Linked DNA regions of Homo sapiens. The protein of the gene in region 1 interacts with the protein of each later gene in a pairwise test. Each region holds a gene or a part of one and is shown in the gene's direction. Other genes may lie near its edges. The genes, in order: KLHL42, UBQLN4, STXBP4, KRTAP19-4, ADD1, SSX2IP and RCN3.

The links.
Region 2: the proteins of KLHL42 (region 1) and UBQLN4 interact in a two-hybrid assay, tested with the Homo sapiens proteins (one large-scale study listed by BioGRID and IntAct).
Region 3: the proteins of KLHL42 (region 1) and STXBP4 interact in a two-hybrid assay, tested with the Homo sapiens proteins (2 studies listed by BioGRID and IntAct).
Region 4: the proteins of KLHL42 (region 1) and KRTAP19-4 interact in binary tests that used the Homo sapiens proteins (3 or more experiments, as listed by UniProt).
Region 5: the proteins of KLHL42 (region 1) and ADD1 interact in a two-hybrid assay, tested with the Homo sapiens proteins (one large-scale study listed by BioGRID).
Region 6: the proteins of KLHL42 (region 1) and SSX2IP interact in binary tests that used the Homo sapiens proteins (3 or more experiments, as listed by UniProt).
Region 7: the proteins of KLHL42 (region 1) and RCN3 interact in a two-hybrid assay, tested with the Homo sapiens proteins (one large-scale study listed by BioGRID and IntAct).

What each region holds. Positions count from the first base shown.
Region 1 is NC_000012.12:27,786,733-27,790,232, forward strand, and holds part of KLHL42 (kelch-like protein 42), read left to right. Parts: intron 1-1,306; exon of another isoform or gene 1,307-1,476; intron 1,477-3,500. UniProt on the Homo sapiens protein: Substrate-specific adapter of a BCR (BTB-CUL3-RBX1) E3 ubiquitin-protein ligase complex required for mitotic progression and cytokinesis. The BCR(KLHL42) E3 ubiquitin ligase complex mediates the ubiquitination and subsequent degradation of KATNA1.
Region 2 is NC_000001.11:156,043,799-156,047,298, reverse strand, and holds part of UBQLN4 (ubiquilin-4), read left to right. Parts: intron 1-3,075; coding exon 3,076-3,301; intron 3,302-3,500. UniProt on the Homo sapiens protein: Regulator of protein degradation that mediates the proteasomal targeting of misfolded, mislocalized or accumulated proteins.
Region 3 is NC_000017.11:54,975,265-54,978,764, forward strand, and holds part of STXBP4 (syntaxin-binding protein 4), read left to right. Parts: intron 1-3,500. UniProt on the Homo sapiens protein: Plays a role in the translocation of transport vesicles from the cytoplasm to the plasma membrane. Inhibits the translocation of SLC2A4 from intracellular vesicles to the plasma membrane by STX4A binding and preventing the interaction between STX4A and VAMP2.
Region 4 is NC_000021.9:30,496,324-30,498,418, reverse strand, and holds KRTAP19-4 (keratin-associated protein 19-4), read left to right. Parts: upstream 1-1,253; 5' UTR 1,254-1,308; coding exon 1,309-1,563; 3' UTR 1,564-1,595; downstream 1,596-2,095. UniProt on the Homo sapiens protein: In the hair cortex, hair keratin intermediate filaments are embedded in an interfilamentous matrix, consisting of hair keratin-associated proteins (KRTAP), which are essential for the formation of a rigid and resistant hair shaft through their extensive disulfide bond cross-linking with abundant cysteine residues of hair keratins.
Region 5 is NC_000004.12:2,846,844-2,850,343, forward strand, and holds part of ADD1 (alpha-adducin), read left to right. Parts: intron 1-3,500. UniProt on the Homo sapiens protein: Membrane-cytoskeleton-associated protein that promotes the assembly of the spectrin-actin network. Binds to calmodulin.
Region 6 is NC_000001.11:84,648,962-84,652,461, reverse strand, and holds part of SSX2IP (afadin- and alpha-actinin-binding protein), read left to right. Parts: intron 1-464; coding exon 465-579; intron 580-1,934; coding exon 1,935-2,100; intron 2,101-3,500. UniProt on the Homo sapiens protein: Belongs to an adhesion system, which plays a role in the organization of homotypic, interneuronal and heterotypic cell-cell adherens junctions (AJs).
Region 7 is NC_000019.10:49,531,003-49,534,502, forward strand, and holds part of RCN3 (reticulocalbin-3 precursor), read left to right. Parts: intron 1-3,190; coding exon 3,191-3,393; intron 3,394-3,500. UniProt on the Homo sapiens protein: Probable molecular chaperone assisting protein biosynthesis and transport in the endoplasmic reticulum.

The sequences.
Region 1 (3,500 bases):
TTTTTTTTGAGACAGAGTCTCGCTCTGTCGCCCAGGCTGGAGTGCAGTGGCCCAATCTTGGCTCACTGCAAGCTCCGCGTCCCGTGTTAACGCTATTCTCCTGCCTCAGCCTCCCGAGTAGCTAGGACTACAGGTGCCCGCCACCATGCCTGGCTAATTTTTTTTTGTATTTTTAGTAGAGATGGGGTTTCACTGTGTTAGCCAGGATGGTCTCGATCTCCTGACCTCGTGATCTGCCTGCCTTGGCCTCCCAAAGTGCTGGGATTATAGACATGAGCCACCGCGCCCGGCCAATTGAGAGATTTTATAAAGCCTTCTGCACTCTGGAGAAGATAGTGGGTGCTATATGACCATCAGAGGGTAAAAAAGAAATGTTTTGCTCTGTAGGCCAAGTGTGCAACACTGCCTGATGGTCTGAACGTGGGTTTGATCTCACAAATTGTCAGGATGTAACTCTTCACACATAAAAGCTTGTGAGACCTCTAGGCACGGCGGCTCACACCTGTAATCCCAGCACTTTGGGAGGCTGAGGCAGGCGGATCACCTGAGGTCAGAGGTTCGAGACCAGCCTGGCCAACGTGGTGAAACCCTGTCTCTACTAATAATACAAAAATTAGCTGGGCATGGTGGTGGGCACCTGTAGTCCTAGCTACTTGAGAGGCCGAGGCAGGAAAATCGCTTGAAACCGGGATGGGGAGGTTGCGGTGAGCCAAGATCAGACCACTGCACTCCAGCCTGGGCAACAGAGTGAGACTTTGTCTCAAAAAAAAAAAAAAAAAAAGCTTGTGAGATCGAGGGTGCTTGCTTTCCCTTTAATCAGTGATAACTTGCAGGAACTGACCACTGTTGCAGCAGTTGGTTCATTAAGGTTCTCCATTTCCAGAGCTTTCTCTAGTCTTTTCCATTGCCCTGCACTTTAGCTCTGAAAATGGAGTTGGAGTGAGTCCTCCTGTTCCATGTGTGAATACAGCAAGGCTGAGAGAGAGACTTTAATAAACAAGTGTCTCCTGGCAGAGATGGAATTGCAGTTGTCAGCCTTAGCGTTTGCTGAGCTGTCCCTTCTCCTCTCAGCCAATGTTTACCATTTTTGGAGCATTTCTGTGGTTGATGTTGTAGTAGAGCCTGGGAATAGTGCAAGAAAGAAAACTGTACGTCTATTCACACTCCCCCCCAACTCCCCATTTAATTTTGGCCAACAGTTTAAATTGCTTTTTGCATCTTTGCTTTTGGAGTTTCTTAGAGCTGGGCATAGGTTGCAACAATGACTACCTCTATTTTCTAACCTTTCCCCTTCTCCCCTTCCTAGTCCCTAGGGGAAGTTAATGCGTAGGGACATGGCAGAAGGCAAGTAGATGAAGGGGAAAGAGGAGACAAAAGGACCTGGATGGCCCACAGACTTAAGCAGTCGTGTTCTGAGTGGTTGAGAAAGGACTTTTGAAAGGATCTTGGCATTTTGTTCTAATTTTTACTCTGATGGTAAGCAAACTTCTTTCTCTACATAGGGGGTCATAATGATGGTTTTCATTTCTTGAGCTCTTACTCTGGGTCAGGTATTGTAGTCACAACTTGAGGTGTCACTTCATATTAATGCTCACAACATCTCTGTGAGGTAGATGTTATTAATCCCATTTCCTTAAAGTGGAAACTGAGGCTCAGTGAGTTTAATTACCTTCCACATAATCACAGGGCTAGACTCGAAGCCACCCAGACCTCTGTGTCATCTTGCCTTCCTATGGTTGTATGTAGCTACTGTTAATCCTTGAGATCTGCGTGCTGGTGTTAAGCATGTTTCATGTTACTTAGCTTTTAGGGGTTTAAAGAGCTTTTTAAGCCACGCACGGTGGCCTAGCTACTTGGGAGGCTGAGTCAGGAGGATTGCTTGAGGCTGGGAGTTCAAGGCTGCAGTGAGCCATGATCAGGCCACTGCATTCCAGCCTGGGCAATGAAACGAGACCCTGTCTCTTAAAAAGCTCTCCTTTTAAAAAAAATTTTTCTTATAAGTGACCTTGAAATTCAATTGTGGTTTTATCCAATTTTCTCACTTAAAACAGAAATTCTAATGATAATATTTTTATTTATTGCAAGGAACAAGTATATAGCTATGATAGATGACTTGTTACTTGGTCTTGAAATTCTTCTTTTTACCTCGTGAACATAGTGTGTTAAATTAAGAAAACACTGTAGAGATGATAATTTTGAAAAGTAGTTGATAGCTTGAATTTATACCTTTACCATTCAGGAGGTGAAGAGTGGAAGAATTATTTTCAGAAAGTTGGAAATGAAGCAGTAAGTGATGAGAATTTGTGGATGAGAGAGCACAAAACATCACAGTCAGTGACTGTTGCAGTTGACAAATGAGAAACCAACGCTCCCAAGGTTAAGAAAAACTTAGACTTAGGACACCCAGAGAAGCACTCCCTAGAATGCCAATGGAGAAAGACTTATCTCTGCAAGTGCTGTCCTTTTCAGCTCTTACTGCATGCCAGATATTGTGCCCTTCTTATCCCTACTTAACAGATGAGAAAACTGAGGAACAGATCAACAGATTCAGTAATTTGTCTAAGGTCAGACAGCAATTGATGTGTGATGTCTGAGACTTCCCTGTGTAAGCCTGGACTCATAACCTTTAGCAGTATGCCTCTTTATTAAATGGTCTGTTTTTAGGTGGCAATTTCATCTTAAAACAAATTCAGCATTAAAAAGTGTTTCTCTTCAAGTGAATTTGAGCGTGTTGGGGTCTGGAGAGATGGAATCATTTACTTTAACTGCCTATTCATTGGTCTCAAAAAGAAGCCCCTTACATGTTTGCTTAGGACAAATGATTATGCTGGATAAATACTAAAAACTGTTTTGATCTTACAAAATTTACTATCTGTGTACCTTTGGGGAGCAAAAACAAATTGCGGCTGGGAAAATTTAGTGCTTGTTTACAAGCTTTATTTCCTTTGGTTCCCCAAATTTGCACACACAGAGAGGGCATCATGGTTGGATTTTAAGGACCATTGGCAGCAAGAAAGGTAAGCAGCAGGAATCAGGGACCCCCCAGTACCTGCCACCCTGACGTCTGTTGGCACAAAAAAGTGGGCTGGCTGGCTGGCTGGCTGGCTTTAAGGGACAAGACGAGGCTCTTGATGAAGAGTACTCTATTCACGCTCTGATTGGAAAAACAAACTAAAACACATTTAGATATAAACATGATAGGAACCTTTAAAAAATCTTAACTGTTTAGTAGGTGCCTATTACTAACCTAGTTTCCATAGTGTAATGCATCAGTTTTATTGAACACTTTTTAGGGGATCAAGCATGGGCTTCTTGTTTACTGCTTCTTCTTAATCTACTCCCTTATATAAGTTTTTTGTGTGTGCATAGCCTCTACCTCCATTCTTTCTTAGTATATTATTATTTTTGAAGACATCATTGTGTTGGGGTTGGATGTGGTCTTGAAATTCACTTGGTCTAGCACCTTTATTTCAAACACTAGAAAACAGAAATTTGAATGA
Region 2 (3,500 bases), on another chromosome or scaffold:
GCACTCTAGCCTGGGCGACAGAGTGAGACTCCATCTCAAAAAAAAAAAAAAAAAAATTCACAAGTTACACAAAGTAAACAAAAGGGTATTCCAAAAAAGTATGGAAAAGTATACAGGCTAAAAAAAGGTTTACAGAAGGGATCCCTCTGTTTCCATCTCCCAGCCAGCTCTTTTCTACCTCAGTGGTAACTAATGTTGTTAGTATCTTGTTTATTTTCCTAGACATATTTAATATTTGCAAATAAGACATAGGTAGAGTTGTAGCCTTTACAAACCCCTCCCCTCTCCTATTCTTTTTCTTTCCAGAGGTAACTAGTATGCTGAAGTTGAAGTTGGGGTTTATCATTCTGATTCTTTTATTACCTATGTATATGTCTATAAACGTCTATATATTATCATATTTTTAAATATGAGGTGGTACCATGCTGGTCTTATTATTTTAACTTGCTTTTGTTTTGAGACAGAGTCTCACTGTTTCGCCCAGGCTGGAGTGCAATGGCGCGATCTCAGCTCACTGCAACCTCCACCTCCTGGGTTCAAGCGAGTCTCCTGCCTCAGCTTTCTGAGTAGCCGGGACTGCAGGCTTGCACCACCACGCCTGGCTAAGTTTTGTATTTTTTAGCAGACACAGGGTTTCACCATATTGGCCAGGCTGGTCTCGAACTCCTGACCTTGTCATCTGCCTGCCTCGGCCTCCCAAAGTGCTGGGATTACAGGTGTGAGCCACTGCACTTGGCTGCTTTTTTTTTTTTTAATACAACCTTTAAAAATGTTTTGTGTTTTTGGTTTGTTTTGTTTTTTTGAGACGAAGTTTCACTCGTTGCCCAGGCTGGAGTGCAATGGCGTGATCTCAGCTCACTGCAACCTCCGCCTCCCGGGTTCAAGTGATTCTCCTGCCTCAGCCTCCCGAGTAGCTGGGACCACAGGCGCCCGCCACCATGCCCAGCTATTTTTTTTTTTTTTTTGTATTATTAGTAGAGACGGGGTTTCACCATGTTGGCCAGGCTGGTCTCGAACTCCTGACCTCAGGTGATCCACCCACCTCGGCCTCCCAAAGTGCTGGGATTATAGGCGTGAGCCACCGTGCCCGGCCTAAAACTGACAAACTTTTAAAATATTTGTTTCATTTAAAAATGACAATTTATTACAAGTTGGTGGAGCGTAGTGGCGCATGCCTATAATCTCAGCATTTTGGGAGGCTGAGGCAGGTGGATCACCTGAGGTCAGGAGTTTGAGACCAGCCTGGCCAACATGGCGAAACCCCATCTCTACTAAAAATACAAAACTTAGCCAGGTGTGGTGGTGGGTGCCTGTCATCCCAGCTTCTCAGGAGGCTGAGGCAAGAGAATTGCTTGAACCCTGGAGGTGGAGGTTGCAGTGAGCCGAGATTGTGCCTTTGCACTCCAACCTGGGCAGCAAAACGAGACTCCATCTCAAAAAAAAAAAATTATTACAAGTTAACATAAATAACATTATTTTGAAAAATAACTTTATTTTCCAAAACAAACAAAACTGTAGAGGAAAGTATGGACTTGTTTTACATTTTTGTAGTTCTCTTTGATGTCTAGCTTACTACAAGACAGCTGGTTCTCAGATCTGCATTCAGTTTGCAATGTCACATGTCATGTAGACTTTGGAAAACTCCACTGTATCCTCATGAGAGAATAAGAGTGAAAAAGACAAATTCATGTCTTAGAATTATGAAAACAGTTTTAATGCTTGCAGGGGTCCCAGGACCACACTTTGAGAACTGTTGTATTAGAGGAGTATTATAAGCATTAGAATAAATGTGTCAGGCACATAGTAGGTGCTCAATAAATGATGGTTGTTATCACTGTGGGTAGTTCAGGAAAAGAGATTTCGTCCTTAGAGTGTACCAGGAAGAATAAAGCGAGCCCAGAACAAGGTGGGGTGAGGTGCTAGGCAAGTATCAGAACAAGAAATCTGAAACAGGCACAGAGGCTGAAACCATGGTGCATGAACCCTGGCCTGTGAGCTCTGTTATCTGAACAGGATCTGGTGAGGTGAAGGAAACAGCTCAGAGTAGGAGAATCCTTGGTTAGCCCCGGTCCCCATGACCCACTTTCAATGAACAGGAAAAGCAGCTCAATATGAAACCCTACGGTGGGGAGGGGCTGAGGTAGGACCACCTGGGAACTCAGGAAAGAGAGCTGCTGAGCTCTTAGACCACAAGAAAGGCTGAGTAGGGAAAACTGAGTCTGGGACTCCCTCAGCCAGAGCTCTGTGCTAGGTGCTGGAGGGGAGGAGGTTCCGGTGTTGCCTTTGGGAAGCACACCATCCCATGGGGTATGGACCTGAGATATCCTGGGGAGCACAGTGAGGAGCATGGTAGGGCAAGGGGGACCAGAAGTAAACTGAGGCCTGTCCATCTGAAGTAGCCAGTGTGTAGAGGTAGGGTTTGGAGCAGGAGGGGAAAACCTAGAGAGGGCATATTCTGCTGGAGGTGTGTTCTGCTAGGGGCCGCCACTGTGGTGTGCCTGGATGGACAGAGAATGCCAGGTAGGGGACCTGGGGAGTGAGGGAAAGGTTCTGGGGAGTTAGGATTAGTCCAAGGAGGCTGGGGAAAGGGAAGATCGGGGTTCAAGTAGAGAGCCAGGTTTGACAGCCCACTCCCATTAAGCCAGTAGTTAGTTATTGAGCACCTACTAGTGTCGGGGCTGGGGGTGCACAGGCAAATCTGACATTGCCTCTGCCCCTTGAGGTACAGGAACACAAATATTTGGCTACACAATGGGAAAACTGTGTGTAAAGTGCGGTGGGTTACATAGGAGATGATTAGAGACCAAATATTGAAAGCCACCGGGGGGATGGGAAGTTTCCAATTATCTGAGAGGTTCAGTTATCCAGTCACTAGCATCAGCTAGCTCCCACCCTATGGAGCAAGGAAGGAGCTATCCATTGTGGGGCAAAGAACTGAACTGAGGACCTCTAAGGTCTTAGATCTCTCTCCCTTTTCTGGGGAAGGGGAGGCTATTAAGTGAGAGGAGAGAATGGGCCTAGCCCTTGTCCCTGATTTGTTTCAGTCCTTAACCCAAAACCTTTCCCTCCTCCCAGTTTGGCAACAATCCCTTCTCTTCCCTGGCCGGGAACTCCGACAGCTCATCCTCCCAGCCTCTGCGGACTGAGAATCGAGAGCCCCTCCCTAACCCCTGGAGCCCCTCGCCCCCCACCTCCCAGGCCCCCGGGTCCGGTGGGGAGGGCACCGGAGGATCGGGGACCAGCCAGGTGCACCCGACAGTCTCGAACCCCTTTGGGATCAATGCGGCTAGCCTGGGGTCAGGTATGTCCTAGGATGGAAGGAGCTTAGTGGGGTCACCAGGGCAGCCCCTCTGTCCCAGGACTGAATGGGGTTCATACTGCTCCAGGATTTTGAAGACAGAGGTGAGACTATCGAGGCCACAGAGGGGGCTCTGCCGTCTGGGATAGTGGCCGGGTGAGGGCTGGTTCTGGCCATGTCCTGATATCCCTAGGAGTGACCT
Region 3 (3,500 bases), on another chromosome or scaffold:
AGTAGTAGCTGGGATTACAGGCGCATACCACCATGCCCTGCTAAAAATTCTTAATAATTATTTAACATGGGGCCTTGCATTTTCATTTTGTATTGGGCCCTGCAATTTATGCAGCCAGTCCTGGTCAAGATGTAAATAGATATAAATATAGATAGAGATGCAGATACAGATATAGGCACAATATTATATCTCAAATGCACTGACAGACAGTCTCACATGATTCAGGCCAAAGCACAGTCTAATTACGTGATTTAATTATGTGATTAAAGGCAAAGGCAGAAAACTAGGGAAAGTACAAAAGTGGAGAGCCTTTAGAGCCTTTACTTTTAACCTTTAGAAGGTTAAAGGTAAGAGATAAAGGGAAAGGCAAATTCAGGTCTCCTGAGAATAGTCAGGTTAAGTGAAATATGATCAAAACTCCAAACTTGCTACCATAGCCCATAAGACCCTAGGAAATCCAGACCCTGCCTACTTCTCTAACCTTATCTCCTACCACTCTCTCCCTGTTCACCACACTCCAGTTGCACTTCTTTCTTTTCTTTAAACACCTCAAGTTTGTTTTACTGCCCTCAGACCTTTTCTCTGCCTGGAATGCTTTGTCCCTCAGCTTTTTTCACAGATGACTTATTATTTGGATCTTAGCTGGGACACCCTCCCCAGTCTAAATTAGCCCTTCTCTCCTTAGTCACATTTGCTATCACCTTTCAATATCTGAAATCTAGTTCATTTAATTGTATCTTTTTTTTATTGTTTTTCTCCCACCACTAGAATGTAAATACCAAAAGAGCAATGATCTTGACTTGTTCACCATAATATCACATGCCCTTAGTGTTGTACCTGCACATAATTGTACTGAGTTAAAAATTTGGTGGATGAATGCATGAATGAAAGCAAACAGAAGGCAGTCCGGTAGCCTAAGGAAACTTCTGAGAGCAGTGAGCTGTTGTGCTGATGAAGACTCCTTTCAAGAAGACTAAGACTTTCTTTGAAGTAGTTTTCTGATGTTTCCCACTGAGTTGGGCTGTGTGTTACAGGCAGATGCTTATGCATCCTGAAATAGGACCAATTGTCCCATAGAACTGATATTAATCATTTCTTTGAATAAGCACAGAAATTGATTCTCCCATTGTTAAAACTTGAGAAAGTTAAATTTGTCTTATCTGAGTTACTTTCTCAGGAAACCAACCATCAGGCCTCCCAGATACTATCAAGAAACTGAAACTTACCAGATCATTGCATCTGGACAATATGATACCAGACCCTTCAGCCATCATGACTGCCTTACCCAGGGGTACCCAGTCCTTAGGCTGCAGACTAGTAGCCGTCCATGGCCTGTTAGGAACCCGGCCAGACGGCAGGAGGTGAGTGGAGGGCAAGTGGGCATTACCACCTGAGCTCTACCTCCTGTCAGATCAGTGGCAGCATTAGATTCTCCCAGGAGTGAGAACCCTATTATGAATTAGGCATATGAGTGGTCTAGGTTGCATGCTCCTTATGAGAATCTAATGCCTGATGATCTAAGGTGGAACAGTTTCATCTGGAAACCATCCCCCACACCCCCATGCGTGGAAAAATTGTCTTCCACAAAACTGGTCCCTGGTACCAAAAAGGTTGGGGACTGCTGGCCTAACCAATCACTTGCTACCTGTTGACCAACTCCTCTTCCTTACCCCTCCCTAATTCCTGTTTTCCCACACATACTTACATTTTTTCCCTGCCATATAAGCCCCTAATTTTAGCTCGTCAGGGAGAGGGATACAAATTTCCCATCTCCTTGGCTGCGGCACCCAGTTAAAGCCTTCTTCCCTGGCAATACTCCTTTCAGTGATTGGTTTTCTGTGTAGTGAGCAACAGGACCTAAACCGAACCCCTGGCATTTTGGTAACACCCCCAAGACAAATGAGTAGCATTTCTGAACTCGTTAGATTCTTGAAAGAAAAAAACATGCACTAGTAAACAGAATATTGCCTTTGGGTACAGAATAAAAGATAATAAAATACAGTTGGCCATCAGTATCCGCAGGTTCCACATACACAGGTTCAACCAATCACAGATTGAAAATGAACATTAGGCCTACAATGGCTGTGTCTTTACTGAACATGTACACACTTTTTCTTGTCATCATGCCCTAAATAATATAGCATAACATATTTACATTGTGTTTTGTATTATAAGTAATCTAGGGATGATTTAAAATATAGGAGAGGATATGCATAGGTTATGTGCAAATACTACACCATTTTATATCAGGGACTTGAATATCTTCTAATTTTGGTATCTGCAGTGTCCTGGAACAAGTTCCCTGAAAATACTGAGGGATGACTATAACTCTTTGATCTTTTATATATTGGTTTCCTGAAACTTTCATGTCATTTAAAAATGATCAGTTAAGTTTAGCCCAGGGAAAATAGTCATTCCTGATTTTGCCAATTTTCTTAAACAACCTTAGGATTATATAAATAGCTGATGTTATCTTGAGGAATCTCTGCTGTGATAAGGTATAAAACAAGTTACCAGTTTCTAAATGCTGTCATTTTTGTGTCTCCTCAAGTATAATACATCCAACTTTATAGGAAGAAATATTTACATTTTTAATATTAGCTTTAGTGAATAAATAAATAGTAGGCATTTCTAACTTGTCAGTCCACAGAAACCAGACAGATTATTTACTGAGCAGCCAACATCATTGTGCCCTCTTCCTCTTTTGAAATGACCTTAATGTGAAATGTCACTACACTAGTACACTTTTCCCTCCACTCTAATCCCTCCCAAATGACCAACTGCAGCCTACCCCATCCCATTCATGGGTCATACTGATCTTAGAGGTGGACGTATATTTTAAAAAGAAAATCGTTCCCTCAAAAAACATTGGGAGACTTGTAGTTTAATAAGCCTGCCATAAAATTTTTGATTTGTAGAGCCAAGAAAGAACCTTTAAAGATCATTTTATGAATGATTTTGACATCGTACATATGAAGACTAGGGAGCAGAGTAAGTGGCTGCTCAAAGTCATATGTCTAGTGGGCATCTACCCTCTGGACTGGTACTCTTCCCAATGCAATAAAAAAAACATGAAATATATGTACTATGTAATATGTACTATGAGCTTCTTTGCTATGAGTCATCTTTCTTTTTAAATTATAGCAGAAAATAAGTGTATTTATTTCTACTGCCTGTCAATTTGCTTACAAAGGAGTTGTCATAAGAAGTTATTTAAAGGATGTAGCTGAATTTCTTTGTGAAACACCAGATCTATGTTATTTTCTCTTTTAAATTGCAACATTTGTTGATACCTTAGCAAATGAAGATGAAAGAAGAAAATAACATAAAGGGTAAAATGACATTAAAGGAGACATAATTAGAAAGAGCTGATATTTAGATGCCAAGAAGGTACACTGGAACATGGTAACTTTTTTGATATTTTTCCTTCTTTATCCAAATAATATATCAAAGTATATATCCTTGTTGTAAGCCATTCAAAAAATAAAGAATAACTTAAA
Region 4 (2,095 bases), on another chromosome or scaffold:
GACAAGATCTTTTGAAGCTGTTGTTAAAAACTGGAAAGAAGATTATCTCTAGGGAATGATATTTGCCATAATGGAACAATGGAAACATTTTGGAGATTAGAGTGTGCTTGGTGTAGGTAGTGTAAGCACATATGCAAAAATTCATCAAATTCATCACACACACACACACACACACACACACACACACACACACACACACACATACACCTTTTTCTTCTCAGGAAATACCATGCTAGTCCACTAAGTTGTTAAATGTTTATTAAGGTATAGGATATATAAAAAGATAATTTAAATATAAGGGCTCTTTGAAATTCAATAAGATACCATTAACATTAGAAATGTTTTCAGAATCTCCAAAATGTAGGTATAATATTACAAGATAACAGGCAGAAGAAATAACTGAGGGTGCAAGTCCTCAGTTGACTCCAAGAATTTAGTCACATACAGCCACAGGTGACCCCAAATATTGTTAATTCAGCTGTGCCCTTAATTTCAACTTTGAGCTTTTAAGTTCTTTTTAACCTTATATGATCTCAAATACAGTGATCAGTTATTTTTAGTCTTATAAGTAATTTCCAAATGTTGTGCTTTCACAACTGAATTTGCATGCCTCTTTGCAATAATTACCTTGTAGTAACAACACAATACATAAATGCTGAAAGGATGAATAAATTCTAAAGTCTATGCCTCTCAAAGGCATGAGTAATTCTCTGGCTACATCTGAACAATAGGGATTTAAAGATGAAATGAAGGCTGGGTGAGGTGGCTTATGCCTCTAATCTCAGCACTTTGGGGGTCGAGGGAGGAGGGTCACTTGAGCCCAGTAGCTTGAGACCAGTCTGGGCAAAATAAAGAAGACAAAGAAATGAGCTCCAATAGCATCTGACTTTAGAGGAACATATAACCTTCATTTTATTTCATTTGTAATATGCAATATGTCTAGCTATGAAGAAATCTATTTAGGATCTGGTATGCCAAGACTTTAGATACAGCAATTTCTTCTCATTAAGTGGTGTGATAACTTTTAAGGGCCACTCCAATTCAGCAACAAAGCAAACTCAAACAATTTAACGATTGTGAGGGCCTCTCCTTGTGCCAGGGAAAAATGAATGACTTGTGTTAAGTAACTAATTTAAAACACACACACAGACACACACACAACAAACAAACAAAAAAACAAAAAAAACAGGTACGCATGTGACTCATCACATACTCTTATCAGGGTATATAAGCCTCCCTCTACACGTGCTGCCATTCACACTTAGGATCTTGCCTTGAGCAGCCAAACAACTCACCACTCCTGACGCCATGAGCTACTATGGCAGCTATTACAGAGGCCTGGGCTATGGCTGTGGAGGCTTTGGTGGCCTAGGCTATGGCTATGGCTGTGGATGTGGCAGCTTCCGCAGACTGGGTTATGGCTGTGGCTTTGGAGGCAACGGATATGGCTACTGCCGCCCATCATGCTATGGAGGATATGGATTCTCAATTCTACTGAAATCCTACCCTGAGGACACGATATCAGAGGTCATAAGAAGATCATTCAATTTAACCAAATATTGAGTCAAACAAGGGCACACTAGATCAATCCAAGATGAAAAAAAATAGCATCTAAGATGTTAGGAATATTCATTATGTTATAATTGCCTATATCGTGTCTACTGGCATCCACTACCTATACTTTCCTAACTGTGTAATTGCTTAGTTCCCTTTGCAATAAATTGTCTCAATTTGAAATGGCACACATGGCTTCTGTTTATTTATTTGTCTATTTGTTTAAATGCTGACTCTCAATTCCATTGCATATTTCTTTTCTTGATGCTTCCCAATAATCTTAAAATTCTGGTCTTATATTCGTGTAACAATCACAGCTGAGTTTTGAAGATTAGTCTACTTTTCACAGTATATGCCTCTTTTTATTTAAGATTTTGATGAATCTTGAACCTCTTAATTTCTAGCATATCTAGATCTAAATAAAAGTTATTAGTAAATAATGATAAATTCAAATGGTATAAAAAATTAAGAAGCATTAGAAAGACTCAGACTTGTTTACTAAACATAAGAATAGGTTTATACAGCCAGCTAGTAAGACCCA
Region 5 (3,500 bases), on another chromosome or scaffold:
GTGGTGGCTCACACCTGTAATCCCAGCACTTTGGGAGGCCGAGGCGGGCGGATCATGAGGTCAGGAGATCGAGACCATCCTGGCTAACATGGTGAAATCCCGTCTCTACTAAAAACGCAAAAAATTAGCTGGGCGTGGTGGCGGATGCCTGTAGTCCCAGCTACTCGGGAGGCTGAGGCAGGAGAATGGCGTGAACCCGGGAGGCGGAGCTTGCAGTGAGTGGAGATCGCTCCGTTGCACTGTAGCCTGGGCGACACGGAGCGAGACTCCGTCTCAAAAAAACAAAAACAAAAACAAAAAACAAGCTAGGTGCGGTCGCTCACAATCCCGGCACTTTGGGAGGCTGAGGCAGGTGGATCGCCTGAGGTCAGGAGTTTGAGACCAGCCTGGACAACAGTGAAACCTCATCTCTACTAAAAATACAAAAATTAGCTGGGCATGGTGGTGCATGCCTGTAATCCCCACTACTAGGGAGGCTGAGGCAGGAGAATCGCTTGAACCCAGGAGGCGGAGGTCGCAGTGCCATTGCACTCCATTCTGGGCAACAAAAGCGAAACTCCGTCTCAAAAAAAAAAAGGAAGTAAGACTAGGATTCTACTCAACCTTCTCATTTTTATATACCTGTATCTACTTTTCTTCTAAGCCAAACATTTTGGTTCTACTTGCTCACTGTTTCAACCCACACCGTACACATTTCAGTCTCAGAACAAGATGAACACGTGAACCTCGAAAATTTGAGACAGGTCTCGGTTAACTTAGAAAGTTTATTTTGCTAGTGTTGAGAATGTGTGCCTGTGACACAGCCTCCAGAAGTCCTGATTGACATGTGCCCAAGGTGGTTGGGCACAGCTTGGTTTTATACATTTTAAGGAGACATGAGACATCAATCAATATATGCTAGAAGTACATTGGTTCAGTCCAGAACGGCGGGGACAGCTTGAAGCAGGGAGGGAGCTTCCAGGTCACAAGTAGGTGAGAGACAAATGGTTGCCTTCTTTTGAGTTTCTGATAAGCCTTTCCTAAGGAGGCAACCAGATATGCATCTATCTCAGTGAGCAAAGGGATGACTTTGAATAGAGTGGGAGGCAAGGCTGGGCATGGTGGCTCACGTCTGTAATCCCAGCACTTTGGGAGGCCGAGGCAGGTGGATCACCTGAGATCAGGAGTTCGAGGCCAGCCTGGCCAGCATGATGAAACCCTGTCTCTACTAAAAATACAAAAATTAGTCAGGCTTGGTGGTGGATGCCTGTAATCCCAGGTACTCAAGAGGCTGAGGCGGGAGAATCACTTGAACCCAGGAGGCGGAGGTTACAGTGAGTTGAGATCGTGCCATTGCATTCCAGCCTGGGACAGAGTGAGACTCCGTCTCAAAAAAAAAAAAAAATAGGAATCTTAACATAGCATAATATTAAACTTTAATAGAGTTGTTTAATTGTTAATGCTTATTCTGGCCTTTCTACATTGAGGAACCTTGAGTTTAAAGGAATGAGGGGAAGCACATTTAATACAGTTTGCCTTTTGAGCTTAATTTTTCTAGAAGTACCTTTTTAAACAGTTGTTATAACTAATGTGTAACACTGTTTTTGATAACTGTCAGCTTAAACATGTTGAGCATATATTTATTTAATTAATTTATTTTTTTTGAGACAGACTCTTGCTCTGTCACCTAGGCGGGAATATAGTGATGTGATCATAGTTTGCCGCAGCCTTGAACTCCTGGGCTTAAGCCATTCTCCCACCTCTGACTCTGAAGTAGCTAAGACTGCAGGTTCATGCCAACAGGCTTGGCTAATTTTTTTTTTTTTTTGAGATAAGGTTTCAAAAGCCTGAGCTGTGTTGCTCAGGCTGGTCTTGAATTCCTGGTCTCAAGTGATCCTCCTGTCTCAGCCTCTGAATATGCTAGGATAACAGGCATGAGTCACTGCACCTGACCTGTTTCCAGGTTTTTACTGTTATAAGCAGTGCTCCAATTAATATTACATCTCCATATTGGGCACTTATGAGGTACATCTATAAATACATTCTCAGAAATGAAATTGCTATGTCAAAGAATAATTGCACTTTTCATTTGCATAGACATTTCCAAATTACCCTCCTGGCCCCAATTAATATTCTTACATTTCCATCTTTGGGCACCTATGAAGTATATCTATAGATACATTCTCAGAAGTGAGATTGCCATGTCAAAGAGTAATTACACTTTTACTTTCCGTAGATGTTTCCAGATTATCCTCCTAAGAAGTTACGTTGGTTTATACTCCTACCAACTGTGTATTTTCTCCACATAATTAAGTATGGACACTAAAGTAACAATAGTCCCTATCTTACATGGTTATTGTGAGGATTAAATGAAGTAAATGCCAAAAGGTACCTACTAAGCTGTCAGCAAATGACTTATATTATTAATATAATTATTGTTTTTTTCTGAACTTTATTACCAGAAATATTATAAACCTAGACAGTGCTTCATGAGGTTGGGAAAGAGGGTTCATACAATTGATCTGAGCAATATATGCCTCCAAAATACTGTTATCTGTATTAGAACAGACGAGCTCTGCATCTAGGCCTTGGGCCCAGGGAGTCTGGCATCTGGGGCTGACGTTAGGGGACAGAGTCCACAGGTATATCTCAAATTTGCTGGAAAGGGCATGCCTCAGGAATGGGGCGCAGTAGATGTAACTACATGTGTGCCTCTGCAGCCTGGAATGGCAGCTGTGGCTGTTTGCATGGGGAGGAGAAAGTCATCATTTGGGAGGGACCTTTAGAATATCCCATCCCAAACACTTCTCTCCTTCTCTTACTCTGAAGGGCTTAATTTAAATTTGCTTTGTGGATTAACGTATTGAGAATGATTTAGGGAGTTCCTTACCTAAAAAATGTTTTCCCTCATCTGCACACTGTCGCTTGAAATTTATTTCACAGGAGAGGGAGCCGTAACCATAGGCAGTGTGGTATTATGAAAGGAGTACTGGCTCTTCACTATGGGTTTACTGTGGTTTGCTGAGGGTAGTTGAGTGGGTGAGAAAGTCACTTAGCTGCCCCAAGCCTCACTTTTCTCCATCGGAAAATTAAGTAGCCATGTAATACATGAAAGAGAGAATGTTGTGAAAACACTTTGAGAATGCAAAGGCCAAGTGAAAACATATGTCCGTACAAAAGCTTGTGTGTGAATGTTCAGAGCAGCATTATGTTTAACAGACAAAAAGTGAAACACCCCAGATGTCCATCAGCTAATGAGTGGATCAACAAAATGTGGTCTGTTCATACGATGGAATAGTAGTTGGCAATAGAAAGGATTGAAGCACTCATACCTGGTACAACATGGATGAACTCTGAAAACATGCTAAGTGGAAGAAGCCAGACACAAGAGACCATGTGCTTCATGATTTTACTTATGTGAAATGTCTTCAATAGGCAAATCTTTTTGTTTTTTGTTTTTTGTGAGACTGAATCTCACTCTCTTGCCCAGGCTGGAGTGCAGTGGTGCGATCTTGGCTCAC
Region 6 (3,500 bases), on another chromosome or scaffold:
CTGCGCCCGGCTTTTTTTTTTTTTTTTTTTTTTTTTTTGGAGATACGGTCTTGCCGTGTCACCTAGGCTAGAGTGCAGTGGTGCTATCTCGGCTCACTTCAGCGTCAACTTCCCAGCCTCTAGCCATCCTCCCTCCTCAGCCTCCAAAGTAGCTGAGACTGTAGTCCTGTGCCACCATGCCCAGCTGATGTTTGTATTTCGTGTAGAGACAGGGTTTTGCCGTGTTGCCTAGGCTGGTTTGGAACTCCTCAGTTCAAGTGCTCCACCAACCCTCAGCCTCCCAAAATACTGGGATTACAGACGAGTGCTGAAATTATTTTTAGTTTTTTAGGTTAACTCATTTGACATAAGAAGTACGAATAGATAGCCAGAGAGCAAACAAAGATAGCTAGAGCAATCATGTGAAATGGCAACTGTGTGGATGTTGAAATATTGATCATTATTTCTTTGGCTGTTTATGGTAGAGAAAGGCATTTGAAGAAGAAAGAGCCAGTTGGTTAAAGCAGCAGTTTCTAAATATGACTACCTTTGACCACCAGAACTCAGAAAATGTGAAACTTTTCAGTGCCTTCTCAGGAAGTGAGTACTTTATAAACTCTTTAATTTGAACATGCATATAAATAAAATTATTTACATATTACAAAATACTACATATTATTAATACAAAACTTTGGAAATCACCAATTAGAGCTCTCTAATTATAACTAAAAGTCAACTTTTTTTTGTTTGTTTTTGAGACGGAGTCTTGCTCTGTCGCCCAGGTTGGAGTGCAGTGACGTGACCTTGGCTGACTGCAACCTCTGCCTCCCAGCTTCACGCGATTATCTTGTCTCAGCCTCCTGAGTAGCTGGGATTACAGGCATGTGCCACCACGCCTGGCTAATTTTTGTATTTTTAGTAGAGACGGGTTTTTACCATATTGGCCAGGCTGTTCTTGAACTCCTGACCTCAGGTGATCCACCCATCTCAGCCTCCCAAAGTGCTGGGATTAGGCATGAGCCACTGCGCCTGGCCTAAAAATCAACTTTAATATTTTATTTACTGTAGTGAAAGTGAGGATGAGAGGGGGACTGTGCATGCCCAAAGTAACTTTTGTTGTGAGTTTGTAATAATGCGAAGTTTTTGAAAATTTACATTGAGAATTTCTTTTTTCAAGATGTAGTCTTGCTCTGTCACCCAGGCTGGAGTGCATCTCGGCTCTCTGCAGCCTCAGCGTCCTGGGCTCAGGCAATCCTCCTTGCCTCAGCCTCCTGAGTAGCTGAGACTATAGGCACACACCACCATACCCAGATAATTTTAAAAACTTTTTTGTAGAGACAAGCCCTCGCTATACTACCCAGGCTGGTCTCAAACTCCTGGCTTAAGCAGTCATTCCGCCTCACCTTCCCAAAGTGCTAGGATTACAGGTGTGAGCCACCCCACCCAGCCTAGAAATATTTTTAAAACTAGATCCTTTTGGCTGGGCACGGTGGCTCACGCCTGTAATCCCAGCACTTTGGGAGGCCGAGGCAGGTGGATCACGAAGTCAGGAGATCGAGACCATCCTGGCTAACACAGTGAAACCCCGTCTGTACTAAAAATACAAAAAAATTAGCCAGGCATGGTGGCGGGCCCCTGTAGTCCCAGCTACTCGGGAGGCTGAGGAAGGAGAATGGCGTGAACCCAGGAGGTGGAGCTTGCAGTGAGGCAAGATCGCATCACTGCACTCCAGCCTGGGTGACAGAGCAAGACTCCATCTCAAAAAAAAAAAAGATCCTTTTAAACATGGGTGGACTATGCAACAAAGATAAGCAAGATTAATGATAATTAATTTGAATTTGTTCCATCTCTTTCCTCACTCAGAACCGCAGATGAATCATCCTGATGATTTACCTTCACTATATTTAATGCCTCACCATATGTACTGCCTTTTTCTCTTACTTGTTTTACAACAGGTTCTGATTGGGACAATCTTATAGTGCACTCGAGGCAGCCGCAAAAGAAGCCTCACAGTGTGTCTAATGGGTCTCCAGTTTGCATGTCTAAACTTACTAAATCTCTTCCTGCTTCACCTTCCACTTCAGACTTTTGCCAGACACGTTCCTGCATATCTGAACATAGGTATTTGTCTATAGGTGATCTTTTCACGTGTTTCTAAAAATTGCTAAAGTTGCACTGCTAAGGGAAAGGTGGCATGTCTGTAGTATTAGCAACAATAGAGATTTTGGAGAGGAATTTAGTAGATGATTTATTCATTCTACAAATATTGAGTGTCCAGTATATATAGACACTGTGCTAGATGCTGGAAATACACTAGTGAACAGGTAGATCTGTTGTCTTCTTGGAGGTAAATCATATGATGTGTGTCTTTTTATTTCACATTTAAGATACAATTTAGAATGTAGTCTTAATTATAGGAGTTAATATTTTAAGCACTTTAATTGTATTAAATGGAAGGATATTGTTTTGACAGTTTTTGTAGAGTACATATCTTAACACTTTTTTCCGGCATGCCCATTTTATTGTTGTTGAAGGGCAAAGAACTGAGAAAAGCCTGTTCCTGTTGAGTGAAAAAGATTTGTGCCCAAGGATGACAGTGTAAAAAAACATGGCTCTCCACCCTGGGAAACCCATATGTTGCTCTTAATTGCTACATTTTGGTGTTTTCCTGTATCTCAAGTTATTATATCATTTTCTAAGATAAGATCAATACTCTGCTTCAGTGCCAATTCCAAGATTAGTTTTAAACGAAGAAGAGGAAGCAGGTAGAACATTCCTAGTAAGACAGAGAGGAATAGAAAAGATCAGAGGGGTAAGTTGGAAAGTATGGTGGTAATCTCTTTGCTCTTAATTAAAAGTAGGAGATAATGGCCTTGGAAAACAGTCAGAGCTGAAGCAAACTCGGCCTGTGTTAGAGACTGGAGTGGAACTAAGTGTCGAAGAAGCCAGCTGGCCCTTGGGCCAAGAATTATGAAATAGATGGAGTTTAAAACAAGAAAGGAAGCTTTTAAAAGAAGGAGGAGAACACACTATAAGTTGTAGTTGACTTTTAAGAGGTGGGGGGATTAGGACTCCAAGTAAATGTTAGAGGGGATGAAAAAGAGCTAGGTAAGAGCACTCTAGCCAAGTGTAGGAACCCTGAGGGTGGGACACACCTCATACATTTGCAATGGTGACCAAGACCTAGAGGTGTGAGATGAGGATGGAGAGATGTAAAAGTTCAAATATACAGAGAGGATAAGATCGTGAACCCACGTGTACCTATGACTCAGGTTCAGCAATTATTAACTCTGATCAATATTGTTCATATATAATCCCACTCTGCTTGCTCTCTCCACCCCAGCCCCAACACATCTGGGATTTCATTTACAGAATATTTTAGTGTGCATTTGCAGGTCAAATATTGTTCTAAGGGGAATAGAAAAAACACTAGTTTTAAGCAAGAGAGTGAAAAAAAGTCTTAAGTTTTAAAAAGATTACTGTTTTATAATATTGAAAACAGATTGTAGGAGTCTGTAATA
Region 7 (3,500 bases), on another chromosome or scaffold:
AGTGGGAGGTGAGGGCAGAGAAGGAGCAAAGGGGTTCAGCATGGTGGTTCATGTGTGTGATCCCAGCACTTTGGGAGGCCAAGGCTGGGGGATCACTTGAGCCCAGGAGTTCAAGACCAGCCTGGGCAACATAGTGATACCCCGCCTCTACAAAACAAATACAAAAATTAGCCCAGCATGGTGGCGTGCTCCTGTAGTCCCAGATACTAGGGAGGCTGAGGAGGGAGGATCACTTGGGCCTGGGAGGTCAAGGCTGCAGTGAGCCAAAATCATGCCGCTGCACTCCAGCCTAAGCAACAGAGCAAGACTTTGTCTCAAAAAGAGAGAGGGCCAGGTGCAGTGGCTCACGCCTGCAATCCCAGCACTTTGGGAGTCCAAAGCGGGCGGATTGCCTGAGACCATGCAAAGGGGGTCAGATCATGCAATGCAAAGCCTTTTAGGCCACGATGAAGATTTAGGCTTTTCTCCAATTGAGAGTAGAACTGAGGGAGGGCATGAGCTGACTTAGGTTTTGAGAGAATCCTGCTGGCTGCGAGGTGGGGAACAGACTGTAGGGAGCAAGAAGCAGGGAGCCCAGTGAGGAAGCGACTGCGATAGTCCAGGTGGAAGACAAGACAAGATGGTGGTCAGATCAGGGTGGAGACAGTGGCAGTGGTCCCCAGGACTGCTGGCTGGGAGATTGTGCTTGGATGGGCATGCATGAAGGAGAAATGGAGGAAGAAGGGCAGTGACAGGTTAGCACATTTAGCTTAGCACTAATGGCAATGCCAGGCATTGTCCTAAGTGCTTTATTATTGTTATTATTATTATTATTTTGAGACGCAGTCTCGCTCTGTCTCCCAGTCTGGAGTGCAGTGGCGTGATCTCGGCTCACTGCAAGCTCCACCTCCCGGGTTCATGCCATTCTCCTGCCTCAGCCTCCCGAGTAGCTGGGACTACAGGCGCCCACCACCACGCCCAGCTAATTTTTTTGTATTTTTAGTAGAGACGGGGTTTCGCCGTGTTAGCCAGGATGGTCTAGATCTGCTGACCTCGTGATCCACCCACCTCGGCCTCCCAAAGCACTGGGATTACAGGCGTGAGCCATGGCGCCTGGCCTTTTTTTTTTTTTTTTTTTTTTTGAGACAGAGTCTCACTCTGTCATCCAGGCTGGAGTGCAACGGCGCGATCTCGGCTCACTGCAAGCTGCGCCTCCCAGGTTCACGCCATTCTCCTGCCTCAGCCTCCCGAGTAGCTGGGACTACAGGCACCTGCCACCACGCCCGGCTAATTTTTTGTATTTTTAGTAGAGACGGGGTTTCACCATGTTAGCCAGGATGGTCTCGATCTCCTGACCTTGTGATCCGCCCTCCTCGGCCTCCAAAGTGTTTTTTGTTTGTTTGTTTGTTTTTGAGACAAGGTCTTACTCTGTTGCCCAGGCTGGAGTGCAGTGGCACGATCTCGGCTCACTGCAACCTACGCCTCCTGGGTTCAAGCAATTCTCCTGCCTCAGCCTCCCGAGTAGTGGATATTACAGGCATCCACCACTGTGCCCGGCTACTTTTTGTATTTTTAGTAGAGACGGTTTCACCATGTTGGCCAGGCTGGTCTGGAACTCCTCACCTCAGGTGATCTGCCCACTTCGGCCTCCCAAAGTGCTGGGATTACAGGCGTGAGCCACCGTGCCCGGCCTATTATTGTTATTATTATTTGAGACGGAGTCTCGCTCTGTTGCCCAGGCTGGAGTGCAGTGGTACTATCTCGGCTCACTGCAACCTCCACCTCCCAGATTCAACCAATTCTCCCGCGTCAGCCTCCAGAGTAGCTGGGATTTCAGGTGCGTGCCACCATGCCCTGCTAATTTTTGTATTTTTAGTAGAGACAAGGTTTCACCATGTGGACCAGGCTGGTCTGGAACGTCTGATCTCAAGTGATTCGCCTGTCTTGGCTTCCCAAAGTGCTGGGATTACAGGCGTGAGCCACCGCGCCTGTCCTGTCCTAAGTGCTTTACATGGCCTAACTCATTTATTCCCCACAACCGCCCTTTTGGGGTAGGTACCGTTTTTTCTTCCTCCGTTTTACAGAGGGGTAACTGAGACACAGAGAGGTTAAGTCACTTGCCCACAGTCACACAGCCAGTAAGAGGAAGTGGCTGGATTTGGACCTAAAATGTCTGGCTGTGGAGCCCAAGCGCTTAACAACACCAGGAACCTCAGAGAAGGGTGTGATTCCGGGGACAGAGTGGGGCCCTAGACAGACTGGAGCAGAGACCGCCTGGTGCGGGAGGTGGGGCGGTGACTCAGGCAGGCCTGGAGAGGGCTCTGCTGTCTCGGATTTTCGACTTTAGGGAGGGGGCCGCGGGGGCCTAGGGACGGTGACAGGGAGGAGGGCTCCAGGTAGTCTCTGTTAATTAGAGATTGGGAGAGGACCGGCCTGGCAAGGCGTCACCAAGGGAGAGGAGAGGGGCCCGAGAGCTGATAGGCGTGGCCCAAGAGAAGGGGAGAGATGGAACCTAAAGTGGCTTGACATGCGACAGGGAGGGGCACAGGAGCCCGGAGGAGCATGGGGAGGGGCAGAGGGAGACTGAGCCCCCGGGGTTGCGGGTGATGGTCCTCAGGCAGTGCCTGATTCAGCCGGGAGCAGGCAGGGGAAAGCCACGGGGCTCAGCACAGGGCAGGGCTGGAGGGAGAGGAGCCTGAAATTGACACGCGCAGCCTGGTAAGGGGGAGGGGCATGGGGCGGGTCGGGGCCTGAGACAGCGGGGGATCGGGGGTGTGGCCGTGGCTGTCTGGGTTCAGAGTCAATCTTGCAACAGGGCCCCCTTGGCAAGGGTCACAGTGCGACGCCGCGCTCCCCTTCACCACCCCAGCTCGGCCCAGCGAGAGGTGCAGCACGTGCAGGCCGAGGGCGGGGCCGGCGCGGAGAGGGTGGCCCTGCATCGTAGTAGGTCCCTCCCCCGCAGTGCTCCCAGCAGGCCCGCTCGTTCTGGAGAAGGGCGTGACTCGACCTGGGGGTGGACCCTAGGCTGAGGGGTAGGGTCCTCCGGTGGGCTTGGTCCCGAAATTGACCCGCGCCCCTCCCCAGTTAGCCCGCGGACCGTGGACTGTATTTTCAGCCCCGGATCCGAAGTGTCCCAGGGGGCGTGGCCCGTGCGAGGGGCGGGGCCTGGGGGCGGGACCAGAGCCTGACGTGTGCCCGCCCCGGCTTCTAGGCGGATCGTGGACCGCATGGACCGCGCGGGGGACGGCGACGGCTGGGTGTCGCTGGCCGAGCTTCGCGCGTGGATCGCGCACACGCAGCAGCGGCACATACGGGACTCGGTGAGCGCGGCCTGGGACACGTACGACACGGACCGCGACGGGCGTGTGGGTTGGGAGGAGCTGCGCAACGCCACCTATGGCCACTACGCGCCCGGTACGCGGCGAGCCCCCGACCCTGCTCCCCATACACCGTGACCCTGACCTTCTGGACCGCCTCATTCTGAGAACCCTGAACCCATTTACCCGGAGTCCCTGGCCCCT